2 separate regions of the Homo sapiens genome follow, and region 1 is linked to region 2. The links come from fine-mapping of genetic effects on gene expression. A gene starts in region 2. The other region holds a variant in brackets. All regions are shown on one strand. Distances are from middle to middle. Region 1 overlaps LIM2 (lens intrinsic membrane protein 2). Region 2 holds the start of SIGLEC10-AS1 (SIGLEC10 antisense RNA 1).

Evidence for each region. PIP is the estimated chance that this variant, and not a neighbour inherited with it, causes the effect. A credible set is the group of variants that fine-mapping cannot tell apart.
Region 1: its variant is the best candidate, but not a certain one, in a credible set for the expression of SIGLEC10-AS1 in whole blood (INTERVAL, PIP 0.89).

The regions. Positions count from the first base shown.
Region 1 is chr19:51,380,818-51,385,198 of GRCh38, forward strand. It overlaps LIM2 (lens intrinsic membrane protein 2), which reads right to left. Exons shown (of 5, transcript NM_001161748.2): 3 at 1,601-1,750. Among named protein-coding and RNA genes, the nearest start is that of LIM2-AS1, 4.1 kb to the right of the region's middle. The variant T/G (reference allele first, on the strand shown) is at 2,644.
Region 2 is chr19:51,413,525-51,417,905 of GRCh38, forward strand. It overlaps SIGLEC10-AS1 (SIGLEC10 antisense RNA 1), which reads left to right and starts at 2,200. Exons shown (of 3, transcript NR_164125.1): 1 at 2,200-2,608; 2 at 2,905-3,206; 3 at 3,608-4,381. SIGLEC10 (sialic acid binding Ig like lectin 10) reads right to left here and starts at 4,118. Exons shown (of 11, transcript NM_033130.5): 1 at 4,021-4,118; 2 at 3,558-3,941; 3 at 3,142-3,426; 4 at 2,786-2,833; 5 at 2,374-2,643; 6 at 2,044-2,091; 7 at 1,657-1,914; 8 at 1,300-1,584; 9 at 898-991; 10 at 188-299. The coding sequence starts at 4,057. RefSeq lists enhancers at 4,048-4,217, 4,278-4,347.

The DNA of each region.
Region 1 (4,381 bases), 33 kb before region 2:
GGGGATAGGTTTGGGATGGGGTTGGACACGCTTGTGTTTTATAATGTAATTGGCCATTGTCTCTGGTTCCTGGGAGGGAGAAACAATATTTGGAACTTCCTGAGTAATAGGAGGGTCTTTGTTATTCTTGAGCCTCTTGGGCCCAACCTGAGTTTATGGTAATGAGATGAGATGACTCAGGGTTGGGTGTGGTTGTCAGAAAAACCAACCAGGTCAGGCACAGTGACTCATGCGTGTCATCCCAACACTTTGGGAGGCTGAGTAGGGTGGATCACTTGAGGTCAGGAGATCAAGATCAGCCTGGTCAACATGGTGAAACCCCGTCTCTACTAAAAATACAATAAAAAAAAATTAGCTGGGTGTGGTGGTGGGTGCCTGTAATCCCAGCTACTCAGGAGGCTGAGGCAGGAGAATCACTTGAACCCGGGAGGGGAGGTGGAGGTTGCAGTGAGCTGAGATCGAGCCACTACACTCCAGCCTGGGTGACAGAGTGAGACTCCATCTCAAAAAAGGAGAACAAAAAAGAAAGAAAGAAAGACCGACCATGATATGTTGAGGCTCTGAACCACTTGATATCAGGGAAGAAAGGAAGTTGGAAACTGCATTCCATCAATGACCAACGATTCAATCAGTCATGCCTATTTTACAAGACTCCAATAAAACCTCTGGACACTGAAGCTCAGTGGCGCTCCCTATTGGTGAAAACATCTGTGTGCTGGGAGGGTGATCCCTGGCTCCACAGGAAGAAGGCTTGGAAGCTCTGCATTTTGGGCTCTCCTAGACTCTGCCCTCTGTGTCTCTTCATTTGCTTGGACCTGAGTTGTGTCCTCTATAAGGAAACTATAACTGTAAGTATAGCACTTTCCTGCATTCTATGAGTTATTCCAGCAATTTTTGTTGTTGTTATTGTTGTTGTTGTTTTTGTTGAGACAGAGTCTCGCTCTGTCGCCCAGGCTGGAGTGCAGTGGCACAATCCCAGCTCACTGCAAGCTCCGCCTCCTGAGTTCATGCCATTCTCCTGCCTCAGCCTCCCAAGTAGCTGGGACCACAGGCGCCCGACACCACGCCTGGCTAATTTTGTTTTGTATTTTTAGTAGAGATGGGGTTTCGCCATGTTGGCCAGGCTAGTCTCAAACTCCTGACCTAGTGATCCACCTGCCTCGGCCTCCCAAAGTGCTGGAATTACGGGCGTGAGCCATCGCACCCGGCCTCCAGCAAATTTTTGAATCTGAGTGGGTCTTGGGAACCTCCTAGTTTGTAGCCAGTGGATCAAAAGCATGGGTGGCCCAGGCACCCTGCTTGCAGCTTGTAGCTGAGGTGGAAGCAGTCTTGCTAGGGACTGTGGTCTTAACCTGTGGAGTCAAACACAAATTTTAGGTGATTCATGCCAGAACTGAACTGTAGTACACCAGCTAGTGTCAGAATAGACTGGAACTAGAAATAGTCATGAGGTTGGTTTTGAGTGTGGGGATGGGATTAGGGTGGGGTGGGGTTGAGTGTGAGGAGGAGTAAGGGGTGAGAATGGTGTTGAGGGGTGGGGACAGATTGGGGTTTGAGATGAGAGCGAGGAGAGGGGTAGGGAGAGGGTGGGCTTACTCACTTGAGGAAAAAAACATGATGCCAGCAGAGAAGGGCCGGGAGATGCGGGAGAAGGTAGGCTGATGAGCGAAGGCCATGATGCCCATGATGATGCCGGAGATGGCGCATAGGGCAGACAGGATCATGAAGGCCCGGGTGGCATTCCAGTATGCTGTGGGAGCACCCCATGGTCATTCCCACACCTCCCCTGCTCTAAGTGAGAGATGCTGCTACCTCTGAGATGAAAATGCCTTGCCCCTTTCCATATCCCTAACCCAGCTCATCCTTCCCTTCTTTGCAAATGCCCTCTTCTTCACCTGGCAAACTCCTACTCATCCTCCAAAGCACAGCTCCCGTGACCCATCCTCTAGGAAGCATCTCCCCACCCCTCAGTCATCATCTTCACCCACGGCTAAGGGTTGTGACTCTCTTTGTCTGTCTCCCCCTCCAGCCTGATTGCTCCTTGAAGACAGGCGGTGGGTTGGTTCTGTGTCATAAACACCCCCACCACACATTTGGTTTGCATTCTGGCCTTGGGAAATGTTTGTTGAATGAATGAATGAATGAATGCTGATTCCTTATATTTTCCTACTAATTACTATTCTCTCTCACATTTCTTTTTTTTTCTTTTCTTTTTTTTTTTTTTTTTTTTTTTTTGAGACCGAGTCTTCCTCTGCCACCCAGGCTGAAGTGCTGTGGCACAATCTCAGCTCACTGCAGCCTCCACCTCTGAGGTTCAAACGATTCTCCTTCCTCAGGGTCCCGAGTAGCTGGGACTACAGGTGCGCACCACCATGCCCGGATAATTTTTGTATTTTTAGTAGAGACGGCATTTTGCCATGTTGGCCAGGCTGGTCTCAAACTCCTGGCCCCAAGTGATCCACCTGCCTTGGCCTCCCAAAGTGCTGAGATTACAGGTGTGAGCCACTGCGCCCAGCCTACTCTTTCATTTATTTTATACTACTTGCTTATATCTGAAAATGTCCTATTTACTTGTTTTTAACTTATTTATAATGTCTGTCTCTCCTCAGTAAATCCTTAGCTCTCAAGGACAAGCACCTTGCT[T/G]TCTCATTCACCACTGTGTCCCCAGCACCTACACCTGGTGCATAATAGGTGCCCAATAAATGCGTGAAATGAATTAATGTTGAGCACCGGGGCCATTCTTCTCTTGTGCTTTGCCCAGGGATGGCCCCTCAGGAAAGATAATAATAATCTCTTCATCCTTTAGCAACGGCTAACTATATGCCAGGCTCGCTACCCAGGTGTGATGTTGTTTATTCCTCCAGAGCCCTACTCTATAAGTACCATTTTTATGCTTCTTTTTCAAGTGAAGAAATGGAGGCCCAGAGAGGTAAAGTGACTTGCCCGAAGTCTCATAATTAGAAACAGGGCTGGAGTCAGAATCCAAGCTCCAAGGCCCACGCTCCTAACTGCTTGGCTATTCTGTCTGCTGGAGCACCTGGGAAATGGTGCACCTCAAACCTTGCATCTTGCCATTGAAAAGTAAAAAGTCTAGGATCTTTGTAAAACCCAGTCTTCTGCCTTGTAGAAGCCTCGGTGAGAGAAATTCCTGGCTGTTTCTCCATGGATTTTATGGGTTATGCCTTTCTGTCCCCCGCCTCAAATGTTTATGTTGAAATTGTAACTAGTGCCTTAGAATGGTAACTTATTTGGCAATAGAGTCTTTGCAAATATAATTAGTTAAGACGAGATCATGCTAGAGTAGGGTGGGGCTCTAATCCAAAGACTGGGCTGGGTGTGGTGGCTCCTGCCCAGTGTAATCCCAGCACTTTGGGAAGCCAAGGCAGGTGGATCACCTGAGGTCAGGAGTTTGAGACCAGCCTAGCCAAAATGGAGAAACCCTGTCTCTACTAAAAATACAAAAATTAGCCAGGCTTGGTGGTGGGCACCTGTAATCCCAGCTACTCAGGAGGCTGAGGCAGGAGAATCACTTGAACCCGGGAGGTGGAGGTTGCAGTGAGCCAAGATCATTCCACTGCCCTCCAGCCTGGGTGGCAGAGCGAGACTCCAACTCAAAAACAAAACAAAACATAAAACAAAGACTGCCGTCCTTATAAAAAGAGGAATCTGGACACAGACATGCTTTTAGGAAAAATGCCATGTGTGAGGAAGGTAGAAATTGGGGTGATGCATCTCCAAACCAAGAAACACCAAAGATTCCCAGAAAATCACCAGAAGCCAGGGAGGGAGGGACATGGAACAGATTCTCCCTCACAGCCCTCAGAAGGAACTGATTTTGCCCACATCTTCATCTCGGCCTCCAGAACTGTGAGACAACACGTTTCTGTTGTTCAAGCCACCCAGTCTGTGGGGCTTTTTTATGGCATCCCTAGCACACTAATTCAGGCTGGTCACAGCGGCTCAGGCCTGGAATCCCAGCACTTTGGGAGGCCGAGGCAGGAGGATTGCTTGAGGCCAGGAGGGTTTCTTTTTGATTATTTATTTTATCTTATTATTATTTTTTGAGACAGGGTCTTGCTCTGTCACCCAGGCTGGAGTGCAGTGGCTCTATCTTAGCTCACTGCAGCCTTAAACTTCTGGGCTCAAGTGATCCTCCCACTTCAGCCTTCTGAGCAGCTGGGGCCACGGGAGCACACCACCACGCCCAGCTAATTTTTTATTTTTTGTTGAGATGGGGTCTCCTTACGTTGCACAGGCTGGTCTCAAACACCTAGGCTCAAGTGATCCTCCTACCTCAGCCTCCCGAAGTGCTGGGATTCCAGGCTGAGCCACCACGTCCATCTGAAGCCGGGAGTTTGAAACAAGCCTGGGCAATACAGTG
Region 2 (4,381 bases):
GAAGGCTCAGAGGGGGTGAGTGACGTGGCTGAGGTCTCATAGCTAGTAAGTGCCAGGCAGGATTTGAATTCAGAACTATCGGTGCTTTTCCCACCTTGATGTCGCTAAGACAAGGGGTGCAAAAGTCAGAAAGTGGGATGTCAGCTTTAGAGAAGAGAAAAAGTGGAAGCATGGCCCAGACACTCACCAGGGGGCCAGCCGTCGGGACCACATTGATGTAATCCAGGATCGTGCTGTGCCGGGAGAACCTGGGCCTCGGGGTTTCTGTCTGAGTCCGTCTCTTCGGTAGAATCTTCATGCTGAGGAAATGAACCCACCTGTTTGTGCCCTGCTGCACCTCCCTGTGACAGACTGCCACGTTTACTACCTGAGACCGTCACTATGACAGTTACTACTGTTACCACTTGAGACCGTCATTATGAGACTGAAAGAAGGAGGACAAACGTAGAAATGAAAACTTAAGACAAAAGAAATTATTTTAAAGGAAGGGGTCAGGGGAAGAAGAAGAGGGTTCCCTGCTACTAGTGAGCCAGGGCAGCTGTCTGAGCCTCTACAGCCCTTTGTATTTATTGGGTAGAAAGAGCAGAGAGCAGGAGGTAACAATTGGTCAGCTGTTTAATTGATCACAGGTTCATATTATTACTAACAAGCTTCAGCTGTGCCTAATTACAAGAAACACTTCGCTTGGGGCGTGACTGCCCTCAGCATTCCCTCTGGGAAGCAGACGCAGTTTGTCAGTTGGACAACATTCTGCATTTATGAGAACAGTTTGCTGTTTACTCATGTAACCTCCAGAGGTATACTGCGTTGATCACGACCTTCACTCTTTCGGCCTGCAACACCTCCCCTCTTCCTGGGTCCAGGCCCCAGACCCCGCCACGCCTCCTCTTAACCTACATGATCAGGGCCAGGCAGAGGAAAAGAAGAGCCGTGATGCCGATTCCCAGAAACGCTCCGTTGGAGAATGCCGTTGAGATGAGTCCCTTCTTATCTGCACACGGAGAGGGCAAGGTGAGCATTTCCCATCCACGCAGGGCTCACGAAGCCCGCTCATCACTCGGCATTAAGGCTTCCGGTTCCCATGGCGGACATTGTATCTGCAACCCCTCTGTTTACTTTTAGGAAACCCTGCCACACCCCGGCCCAGGTGTTAGGACTTCCCATTGTGTTTTCCTGTCTACATACAGATGCCACGGGTCTGCTGTGTCCCTCCAAGCTCCTGCTCCAACCACAGGACCCTACTCTTTGCCCCAGTCAGCTTCTCCTCCAAGAACCTTGGCATCCAGGCGGCCCCCTAACCTGGCAGCTGCAGGATGGATCCACTCTGGGCCCCATGGACGTTCCAGGCCTCACAGCGGAGCCTGAGGCCGGAGCTGAGCCCTCCATGGAGGCTCAGGGAGCTGTTGGCCCAGGGCCCGGCTGAGCTGGGGGTGACCTCGAAGGAGTCCTGGCTGCTGTTCCCCTCCAGCAGCTCCTCCCCAAGCCACCAGCGCAGAGAGGGGGCCGGGCTGGCCTGGGAGGAGCAGCTGCAGTGCAGACCCTCAGCCTCCCAGGAGCAGGAGGGGCCCAGCAGCTTCGGGGAGTCTGAGGGGAGGGAGGACAGGACTCAGCAGGGTCCCCTTCCTGGGACCCAGGTGTCCCCTTTCCCCCACTCACAGTGCACGGAGAGGCTGAGAGAGACGTGCTGGGAGCCCAGTGGGTGCCGAGCGTGGCAGGTGAACTCTCCTTCGTGCTCCACTTGAACCCGAGGCAGCTCCAGGACCCCGGGGTCTGAGGGCTGGGAGGGGCTCAGAACCTGTCCCCTCTGGGTCCAGCTCAGCCTGGCTGGGGGGCTGCTGTGTGTGACACAGACCAGGCACAGGCTTTGGCCCTCCAGTACTGGGAGAGACGTGCCGTTCCCAAGGTTTTCCAGGACTAGGGAAGGAAGAGGCAGAATCGATGAGCAGCTCAGGGCTCAGGGACCCTCCTGCGTGGGGACCCTCCAGACTCCTGGGCCCCCAATTCGGCACTGAGAGGCCTTGGCTCCTCTGTCCCCTTTCCTACCTGTCCTGTTTGCTTGGGAAACCATCACTCTCAGGTTCTCTGGAGGATCTGAAATGGAGACAGGGGACCGGCTCTAGACGGACCAGGGGCTTCCCTCTGGGTAAAGGGAACCATCCTGGACACTGAGGTGGGGGAAGTGGGTGGGATAGAAGGGCAGGGCAGAATCACCCACTGAGTCCCAGACACAAACTGCATGAGGGTCTACACAGGTAAGAAGGTCGGTCTCCGAGGCCTGGGGCTCCAGGCCCCCTCAGCTCTGGGACCCTGAGCCCAGCCCCTGTATCCCTCTGCCCTCCCAATGGACTCCAGGCCCCTGCTGGGCACACTCACACTGCACAGAGAGGTCCAGGGCTCGCTGCTGGGAGCCAAGCCTGTTCTCCGCTCGGCAGGTGTAGCGCCCTGAATCCCCAGCCTTCACCCCGGGCAGCTCCAGCCCCAGGGGTCTAGGGCCCCAGGGATGGGACGAGGAGAGGACTCTGTTCTGCAGGACCCAGCTCAGTGTGGCAGGGGGCTGGCTGTCAGCAGCACAGAGGAGCCGCAGGAACTGGCCTTTTTGGGCTTCCAGGTATGGGACATTTCCCTGGGGCTGGGGCTCCAGGGCTGGAGTGGGAGGAAAAAAAAAAAAGAGAGAAAGGGAGGGAGAAAGAGAGAAGGGGTACAGGGAGGAGCACATCCCCTCATCCCCTGAAGCCTTTTCATCTAAAGACAACTGGCCCAGCCCCAGCCCGACGGCCCTCAGTACCTGGCGTGTTGTCACGTGAAATGCTGATAACAAGGTCTCTGGGGGCATCTGCAACAAGATTGTGAGCTGGCTTCAGGGAGGGACAATTTATTCCTCACACCTGGAAAAAACTCCCTCAGGGAAAAGAAAGTGGGACTATCCCGGGAAGACAAGTGACAACCAGCGCCAGGGCTCACGTGTGTGGACCAGACGCCATTCCCATCCCCCTCCCAGGGCTGCGGCGGCATCCTGGGACCCCACAGCTTCCTCTCCCTGGATGCTCCTGAGCTGGGAGCCGCTCACTGTCCCACTGGGCTCCTCCACCTCCCCACCCACCGGGGCTGTCTGCACACCCCACCCTCCCAGGCCACACTCACAGGCCACACGGAGTCGGACGGTCCTCTGTGCGCTCACACCCTTTCTGGAGAAGTCCACATGGCAGGTGAGGTCGGTGTTGTGGTCCTGGGGTCTGGGCGTGAAGCTGAGCACTGAGAAGTGGGAGGTCGTTGGTTTGGTTCCTTGGGAGGAGAGGGCAGCCCCCGTCCAGGAGAAAGAAGGGGGTGGACATTCCTCAAAGGCCCAGTTAAACACACAGATGACCGTCACCGGCTGCCCGGGCTCCAGGGTCTCGGGGATGTAGACATCAGGCTTCTGAGTCAGGGCTGGGACAGAGACCGTGGTGGGAGATTCTTGTGCTGCAGGGGTCCCTGAGAGCCCTCTCTGCTCAGCCCATAGGCTGTCCCCAGGGTCCCTCCCCAGTGTGAGAGGCAGGGGTTCCCACCCCATTCCATACCTGTTACTTTTAGAAAGAACCCATCGTTCATGAAATTATATCTCACATAGCTTCCTCTCTCCACCCGAAAGAAGTACTGTGACTCATCCTGCATCTGCGCGTCTCTGATCACCAAGGAGCAGTTCCCCTTGGCGGGATCCCCAGTGAGCTGGAATCGGCCCCGGGTGCTCATTTCCACCTCTCGACTCTGGTGGTTTGTGGCCACAGGAGCACCCTTGGTTGTCTCAGTCACTGCTTTGAACCAGTAGCCATAAGCTGGGGTAGACCCTGTCCAGTCCTGTCGGGGGTAGGAGAAAGAGCAGGGCACAGAGATGCACAGGCCCTCCGGCACCATCACTGACTCCTGCACTCGTATCCAGAATCTCCCATCCATAGCCTGGGACCCTGTGGGGAGACAGAGGCTCAACCTGCAACCCCAGCCCTAGCTCCGCCCCAGGTCCTTTCCGGCCCTTGGCCCACTCACCGCCCAGCAGCGAGGACAGCAGCAGTGGCAGTAGCATCTCCGCATAGGAGGCGCAGGGCCTGCCTGAGACAGGCCTGTTCTCTGGTCGTGCTGTGAGTGGCTCAGGGCTCTTGGCAGAAGGGGAAGCCGAAGGCGGAAGCTGAGCCCTGGGGCCTGATGCATGAAATGAGCTTCAGACGCTGAGCTCACAGAACTCCTTTGCCTTCCCCCACACTCTCCGGCCCACCTTGCCCAGTTGTCCTCTGGGTCTCCTGGGGGCCCAGCCTGGCCTTGGGCTTGTTGAGCTGGTCCTTCCAGAGCTCCCTGTGTAGGAGGAGAGGGCAGGCTTGTGTCTATCCTGGGGGCCTGGCTGGGGGTGGGG